Linked DNA regions of Homo sapiens: region 2 is linked to region 1. Evidence: fine-mapped expression QTL. A gene starts in region 1. The other region holds a variant in brackets. All regions are shown on one strand. Distances are from middle to middle.

Region 1 (4,000 bases):
CCATTTAATTTTCATATTTTTTGTAGAGACAGGGTTTCGCCATGTTTCCCAGGCTGGTCTCGAACTCCCGGGCTCAAGCAATCCACCCACTCGGGGTTCCCAAAGGGCTGGAATTACAGGCGTGAGCCACCGCCCCGGCCTAACTCATGATTTTTAACACATTGACTGAACTGTGCAACTCTTGCCACATCTGGTTTTAGAACATTCCCGTTGCCCCAGTAAGACCCCTCACACCAGATGATAACCACTCTTCATTCGTACACCCCAGTCCCAGGCAACCACACATCTGCTTTCTGCGTCTATAGATTTGTCTTTCCTGGACATTTTATATAAATGGGTCATACAATATGTGAGTTTTCACATCTGGCTTCTTTGATGTAGCGTAATGTTTTATGAGGTTCATCCACCTCGTAGCTTGTATCAGAACTTCATTTCTTTTCATTGCCCAAGAGTATTGCATGGTATAGACGCACCACAGTTTATCCACTCATCAGTGGACACAGGTTGTTTCCACTTTTTGGCGATACATCATGTTGCTATGAACATTTGTGTGCAAGTCTTTGTGAAGATATATACTTTTTTTTTTTTGAGACGAAGTCTTGCTCTTGCCGCCCAGACTGGAGTGCGATGCTGCGATCTCGGCTCACTGCAACCTCCGCCTCCCAGGTTCAAGCGATTCTCCTGCCTCAGCGTCCTGAGTAGCTGGGATTACAGGCTTGCACCACCACGCCCAGCTAATTTTTGTGTTTTCAGTAGAGACAGGTTTTCACCATGTTGGCCAGGCTGGTCTCAAACTCCCAACCTCAAGTGATCTGCTCACCTCAGCCTCCCAAAGTGCTGGGATTACAGGTGTGAGCCATCGTGCCTCACAATATACTTTCATTTCTCTTGGGAAGCCTCCTGGGGTAGAATCTTCCAGATGACCCAATCATATGGTACATTTCTGTTTCATTTTTTAAGAAACTGATAAACTGTTTTAAAAGTAGTACTCCATGTCTTGACCAGGGTGGGTGGTAGTTATACGGGGTCTCATTTTGTAAATTATTAGTTACATTAGATATTTATTCACTTTCTGTATTTCTTCTATTTTATAACTTTAAAAGAGTCAAGAAATAAATTGGGGGTGGGGTGGTGAGTGGAGTCAACTCTGGGAAGGTTTTTTGTAAGGGGTAGCAGTTAGGAATGCTGTTCTGGAAGCTGTATGGAGCACTGGAGGAGGAGCAACTGGGGAAACAAATCCTACAAGAATTTCACAGGAGGGGCTCCAAGACCCATCAGGTTCAGCCCCTGGGCAGGTATATGCAAAAGCACATGCCAATATATGCAAATAAGTTAGGATCTCCTGGGGTTTCCTCACCTTGGGGGTCTGTCTCTAATGGTTGTGACCAGGATGGTGGGCAGGCCCCAGGGCTTTGGGGTGCTGGCCTTGGGCACTCACAGCCTGGCTTTTCTGGGAGCCTGCAGTCCTGCAGGGGCTGAGGGTGGAGTATCATCTGCTAATCCCTGGCCTGCTGAGTCCACCACTCTCCCTGATCCCCTCACGCTTACCCTGGATACTGGCCACAGCTAATCTCCACTCCTGGAGACTCAAGGGCTGGCAGACAGTGCAGTGCCCTCTTCCCTGAGGGTTCCAGGGAGGGGAGATCCCTCTCAGCATCCAGATCCTCCTAACGGCAGATCCTAGAGTCCTTGCCTAACACAGAGGAGAGCCTTGAGTCCCAGAGAGAGGCGGTAATTAGCCCAGGATTACACAGCCTGCAGTGGGCTCAGTAGCCATTTCTGGCCTGCCTTGGCCTGACTACCTCCAGGGAACCCCAGCTCCCCATCTGACATTTCCCAAGATGCCTGGCCTGTGCTAAGGCCTGGGAGACCACAGCCTTCAGGAAGGCTGGAAGGGAGTGGCCAGAGCACAGGAATTCTGGCACAGGCTCTTGTTAGAGCCTGTAGTTGCCAGGGTTGCTAAGGAGTGGGTGCCTCAGAATCAGGCTGCAATGGGCATTGTCTGTGCACAATGTTCCTTTATTCTGCTGCTGTCCATAATAAGGGCTCGTCCACCTCCCTTCCTCTTCTGCCCATTGAGCAGTCAAAGAACTGAAAGTCCTTATAAGCCTGTGCACCTGGGCCTGGGCCCTACAGATAAGGTAGCTGCTATTGGTGAGTCAGAAGCAGGGAGCCCTTGCTCTCTTCCCCATATCCGTGATCCCCCTCCCTGTCCCTCCCCAGGCAGTCACATCCCCTAAGGCAGCTTCCCCATGCCTTGTCACCATGCCCCCTCCCTGCTCCTCCATGATCTAAGGTCCTCTCTCCTCCTGCCACCCTAGCTTCCACCTCCACCTCTCACCTCTAACTCAGGGTCAGGAAGAAAGCAAGCTGTCTCAACAAATTCTCACTAAAGTGTAAATGACTGAAAGGCTCCTGGGACTATCTGCTTTTTAAAGGGAGGCACTGGGTATCCAGTAATGCTTTTCTAGTTTAAATATATCATGTTGCTCCCCTTCCTGAAAATCTTTCTGAGTCAATCTGTAGAATTTTGGGTAAATAGCTAGGGCAAGTCCATAATTATTCACCCAGAGGTATACGGCATACTAAGCTACATTCTGAACCCGCTTGCTGCTGCACTTTCCTGCTTATTATTTAAGAATAGACTCGCCAGGCAAGGTGGCTCACACCTGTAATCCCAGCACTTTGAGAGGCTGAGGCGGGTGGATCACTTGAGGTCAGGAGTTCGAGACCAGCCTGGCCAACACAGTGAAACCCCGTCTCTACTAAAAATACAAAAACTAGTCACATGTGGTGGTGGATGCCTATAATCCCAGTTCCTCAGGAGGCTGAGGCAGGAGAATCACTTGAACCCAGGAGACAGAGGTTGCATTGAGCCAAGATGGCGCCACTGTACTTCAGTCTGAGCAGAAGAGTGAGACTGTCTCAAAAAAAAAAAAAAAAAGAAAAGAAAGAAAGAAAAAAAAACGAATAGACTCAAATACCACCTCTTTTAGACCATTCCTTGAATGTCCTAACCCCAGCCTCCCCAGAAACACACACTCTGTACTGACCTCCCTCACAGCCATGGCACAATGTGAGTGTGTGTGTGTGTGTGTGTGTGTGTATGTGTGTGTTGGAAGGGGAGTGGGAGGGTTGTCTCTGTTATCTTCTGTTATCTGAATGTTCCTGCCACCTCATGCTGAGCTCCAGAAAAATGGCCTGGCACACAGTAGGTGCTAAATAAATGTTTGGCAAGTAGACATCGGCACTGGCCAAGGTTGTTTTCATGCAGAGAAGGGTGTCTGGCCAGCATGAGCCCAGGGTGAGCCCCTTAGAACCCTCTGCCCCCCAGCTATGGCCCGCATCATTGACCTGGTGCCCTGGGACGATGGCTCCACACATGTGTATGCCTCCCCGGCCATCCTGCTTCCCATGGAGCGGCAGCGCAACCAGCTGGCGGGCGTGAAGCAGCAGCTCTACCACCCAGCCCTGCCCACCCTGCGCCACATGGACAGGGACACCGTCAAGGCCTGCCTTCCTGATGAGCACTGCCAGTCCACCACCTACTGCCGCAAAGGTTAGGACACCAGTGTAGGATCCCCTTTGGGGAAGGGGCAGATGGTTTCAGGAAAGAGGGAGACAGATGCAAGGATGAAAGAGGCCAGTCCCAGCTCTGCTGCTCCCTGCCCAGGACACTTTGGCCAGGTCTGAGCCTCTGTTTACTGCTCAGTACAATGAGGATAATTGACAAGGCCTACCTCAAAGTGTTGTTGTGGGGTTAGAAGGAGATAAGGCACAAAAAACACTTAGAGGCTGGGCGCAGTCCCAGCACTTTGGGAGGCCAAGGCAGGCTGATAACCTGAGGTCAGGAGTTTGAGACCAGCCTGGTCAACATGGTGAAACCCCATCTCTACTAAAAATACAAAACTTAACCAGGCGTGGTGGCAGGCACCTGTAATCCCAGCTACTTGGGAGGCTGAGGCATGAGAATTGCTTAAACCTGGGAGGCGGAGGTTGC
Region 2 (4,520 bases), 680 kb after region 1:
AAAATACAAAAAATAATCAGGTGTAGTGGTGCATGCCTGTAATCCCAGCTGCTTGGGAGGCTGAGGCAGGAGAATCCCTTGAACTGGGGAGGCAATGGTTGCAGTGAGCCAAGATGATGCCACTGTACTCCAGCCTGGGCAACAGAGCAAGACTCCGTCTCAAAAAAAAAAAAGGCCTGGCACAGTGGCTCACGCCTGTAATCCTAGCATTTTGGGAGGCCGAGTTGGGCAGATCACGAGTTCAGGAGTTCAAGACCAGCCTGGTCAACATGGTGAAACCCCATCTCTACTAAAAATACAAAAATTAGCCGGACATGGTGGCACACCTGTTAATCCCAGCTACTCGGGAGGTTGAGACAGGAGAATAGCTTGAACCAGGGAGGGAGAGGTTTCAGTCAGCCAAGAGTGAACCGAGATTGTGCCACTGCACTCCAGCCTGGGGCACAGAGGAAGACTCCGTCTTGGGGCGGGGTGGGGGGCAGGAAATAAAGAAAGACACATGGATGAATGGATGAAGGACAGATGGATACATGAATGGATGCATGGATACATATGTGCATGAACTGGCTGAATGGAATCCAGGGTGACCCGGGAAGAGAAAAGTCAAGAGCTGGCCATAGGATCACCAACCCAAAGCACAGCCCATGAAATCTCAAAATGGGAATGCTGAAAGGTTGGAGAAGCTCCCGGCTTTCAGAGGAGGAGACTGTAGGACTTGCTCCTGGCTCAGAGGTCATTCATGAGGGAGCTAGGAAGGAGTTCAGAGTCCTCTGGCGTTCCTTATCTTTTTATTGACAGAGTGTAATTCTATGCTCCTTCTTTGCCCTTATATCACCCTTTTTTCTTCTTTTTTTTTTTTTTTTTAGACAGGGCCTCACTCTGGTCACCCAGGCTGGAGTGCAGTGGTGCAATCTTGGCCCGCTGCAGCCTTGACTTTCCAAGCTCAGGTGATCTTTCTACCTCAGACTCCCAAGTAGCTGGGACTACAGGCGTGTGCCACCATACCCAGCTAATTGTAGTTTTAGTAGAGATGAGGTTTCACCATGTTGCCCAGGTTAGTCTTGAACTCTTGGGCTCAAGTGACTCACCTACCTTGGCCTCCCAAAATGCTGGGATTACAGGTGTGAGCTGCTGTGCCAGGCCCTCTTGTATCATCTTAATCGTTTTATTTTAAACAAATGAATCCCCTTCCCTGTCTCCCATAATAAAATGCAGTTTATCGAGGATGAGGCTATGACTTGAAAACTTTTTTTTTTTTTTTTTTGAGATGGAGTCTTGCTCTGTCACCCAGGCTGGAGTGCAATGGTGCAATCTCAGGTCACTGCAACCGCCGCCTCCCAGATTCAAACGACTCTCGTGCCTTGGCCTCCCAAGTAGCTGGGATTACAGACGCGTGCCACCATGCCCAGCTGATTTTTGTATTTTTAGTAGAAATGGGGTTTCACCACGTTGCCCAGGCTGGTCTCAAACTCCTGGCCTCAAGTGATCCACCCACCTAGGCCTCCCAAAGTGTTAGGATTACAGGCATGAGCCACTGCGCCCCACCCCATTCTCATTTTTGACCAACAACCAAAGCCCAAGGGATGTCATTCAGTTTTAGCTGGTGGCTGGGAATCAGGTTCCTGGTCCAACCACTGACCCTCCAGGAGATGGAACTAGTCACATCCCCAGCAAGACCCTCTTTCTCCACGTTGGGCCTTCAGAAGAGACCTCACTGAGTGTGCAGGGTGCAACTGTAGTTAGTGGGATGTCAGTGAAATGACACATGACCCAGGTCCTCTTTTCCAGGAACTAGGGAAGCTTGCTATTTAGAGTGATGTGAGGTGAATCCTCTTATGTGAAGAATTCCATCCTGATTTACTTAAGGTACTCTTTGATGCCAAATGTAACCTTTTAAAAGAATAACAACAGTCAATGGTTTATTTATTTATTTTTTCATTTATTTCTTCAATCATCCCTCATTATGGGCAAGGTACTTTCTATGAATTCCATATAATTCTTGCAAAAACCCTTTGATCCAAGTATTTGTGTGTATTTTCCAGATTATGTGCTAGACAAAATGGCCACAAGTTCTTTGTCACTTCTCTCTTGAAGAGATGGGGTCTAGCTCCCCTCCACTTGAATCTTGCTGGGCTCTGTGACTCACTTGCCTGAGAGAATGCTA[C/T]GCAAGTGGCATTCTGAGACTCCTGTAACTGAAGATGCTTCTCTCTGGGCCTCTTGAAATGCTCACTATTGGGCTGGGCATGGTGGCTCACACCTGTAACCCCAGCACTTTGGGAGACTGAGGTGGGCAGATTGCTTTGCACTCAGGAATCCAAGATCAGCCTGGGCAACATGGCGAGACCCCATCAAGAAAACACAAAAGACCCCTACAAAAAAAATACAAAAAATTAGCTGGGTGTGGTGGCATGCCCCTTGTAGTCCCAGCTACTCGGGAGGCTGGGGTGGGAGGATCAGGGAAGCAGAGGTTGCAGTGAGCCCAGATCACACCACTGTTGGGACTCTCCCAAGAATGCAGCCACCACACTATGAGAAGTTGAAACCACATGGAGAGATCATGTGCAGATGCTCCAGATAACAGCTCAGGCGAGTTCCCAGCCAGCAGTCAGCAAGTGAGTGCGCCATCTTGGACACTGTGCCCCAAGTAAGCCTCCACATGGCTGCAGCTCTAGCTCTAACTAACACTACACAGAAGAGAAGAACCACCCAGCTGATCCTGGTCAACCCACAGGATTGTTACGAAAGTAAACTTGTGTTTAAAGCCTCTAAGTTTTGGGGTGGTTTATTATGCAACAATAGAGAACTGGAGAGATGAGAAAGCTAAGCATCAGATTACTCCTGTTTTTGCAGCTGATGAAATTAAGATCCAGGGAAGTTAAATAACTTACTTGAGGTTACATAGCTAAGGAGCCAATGGAGGAATTAGTTGGGAGTCAGACTTTGATCTTTCGGTCTCCAAAGCCCAAGTTTTATGCATTCTGCTCAGCGGGCTTTTCTCCATATCTGACTCCCACACCAAGTGCTTACAAGTATGTGGGACATTAGGATGAGGATGTCATTTTTTGTTGTTGTTGTTGTTGTTGTTTAAATAATTTTCTTTTCTTTTCTTTTTTTTGAGACGGAGTCTCGCTCTGTCACCCAGGCTGGAGTGCAGTGGCGCGATCTCGGCTCACTGCAAGCTCCATCTCCCGGGTTTACGCCATTCTCCTGCCTCAGCCTCCCCAGCAGCTGGGACCACAGGCGCCTGCCACTACGCCCGGCTAATTTTCGTGTTTTTAGTAGAGATGGGGTTTCACCGTGTTAGCCAGGATGGTCTCCATCTCCTGACCTTGTGATCCACCTGCCTTGGCCTCCCAGAGTGCTGGGATTACAGGCATGAGCCACCGCACCCGGCTTTTTTTTTTTTTTTTGAGATGGAGTCTCACTCTGTCTCCAGGCTGGAGTGCAGTGGTGCGATCTCGGCTTACTGCAACCTCTGCCTCCCAGTTTTGAGCAATTCTCCTGCCTCAGCCTCCCAAGTAGCTGGGACTACAGGCATGTGCCACCATGTGCAGCTAATTTTTGTATTTTTAGTAGAGAAGGGGTTTCACAATGTTGGCCAGGATGGTCTTGATCTCTTCACCTCGTGATCTGCCTGCCTCGGCATCCCAAAGTGCTGGGATTACAGGCGTGAGCCTCCGCGCCCGGCAATTTGTATTATTTTCAACCACCCACCTGCTAGCCCCAAGCCTCACCTTTGCCTTCCATGTGCCTGAGCAGGGCCACCTGCATTGGACTGTGACGTCAGTGAGATATGAACGTTTATGGTGTTAAGCCACTGGGATTTTAGGATTTATCTGTAGCATCTCTTAACTAATGCATCTTTTTTTTTTTTTAGACACAGTCTTGCTCTGTCGCCCAGGCTGGCATGCAGTGGGGAGATCTTGACTCACTGCAACCTCCGCCTCCCAGGTTCAAGCGATTCTTGTGCCTCAGTCTCCAGAGTAGCTGGGACTACAGGTATGTACCACCACGCTGGGCTAATTTTTTCTTTTTTTTTGGAGATGGAATCTTACACTCGACCAGGCTGGAGTGCAGTGGTGCCGTCTCGACTCACTGCAACCTCCGCCTTCCAGGTTCAAGCGATTTTCCTGCCTCAGCCTCCCGAGTAGCTGGGACTACAGGCACACACCACCATGCCTGGCTAATTTATTTTGTATTTTTAGTAGAGACAGTGTTTCGCCATGTTGGCCAGGCCTCAAGTGATCTGCCCATCTCGGCCTCTCAAAGTGCTGGGATTAAAGGTGTGAGCCACTGCGCCCAGCCCAGTTTTTTTTTCTGTTTTTTTTTTTTTTTTTTTTTTTTTTTTTGAGACGGAGTCTCACTTTATCGCCCAGGCTGGAGTGCAGTGGTGCAGTCTTGGCTCACTGCAACCTCTGCCTCCCGGGTTCAAGCGATTTTCCTGCCTCAGCCTCCCAAGTAGCTGGGACTACAGGCATGTGCCATCACGCCCAGCTAAGTTTTTGTATTTTTAGTAGAGA

Evidence for each region. PIP is the estimated chance that this variant, and not a neighbour inherited with it, causes the effect. A credible set is the group of variants that fine-mapping cannot tell apart.
Region 2: its variant is the best candidate, but not a certain one, in a credible set for the expression of SPMIP8 in ileum (GTEx, PIP 0.54).

Annotation. Positions count from the first base shown.
Region 1 is chr16:57,974,481-57,978,480 of GRCh38, forward strand. SPMIP8 (sperm microtubule inner protein 8) reads left to right here and starts at 2,064. Exons shown (of 8, transcript NM_199456.3): 1 at 2,064-2,154; 2 at 3,335-3,559. The coding sequence starts at 3,337.
Region 2 is chr16:58,656,323-58,660,842 of GRCh38, forward strand. No RefSeq gene overlaps it. Among named protein-coding and RNA genes, the nearest start is that of SLC38A7, 26 kb to the right of the region's middle. The variant C/T (reference allele first, on the strand shown) is at 2,165.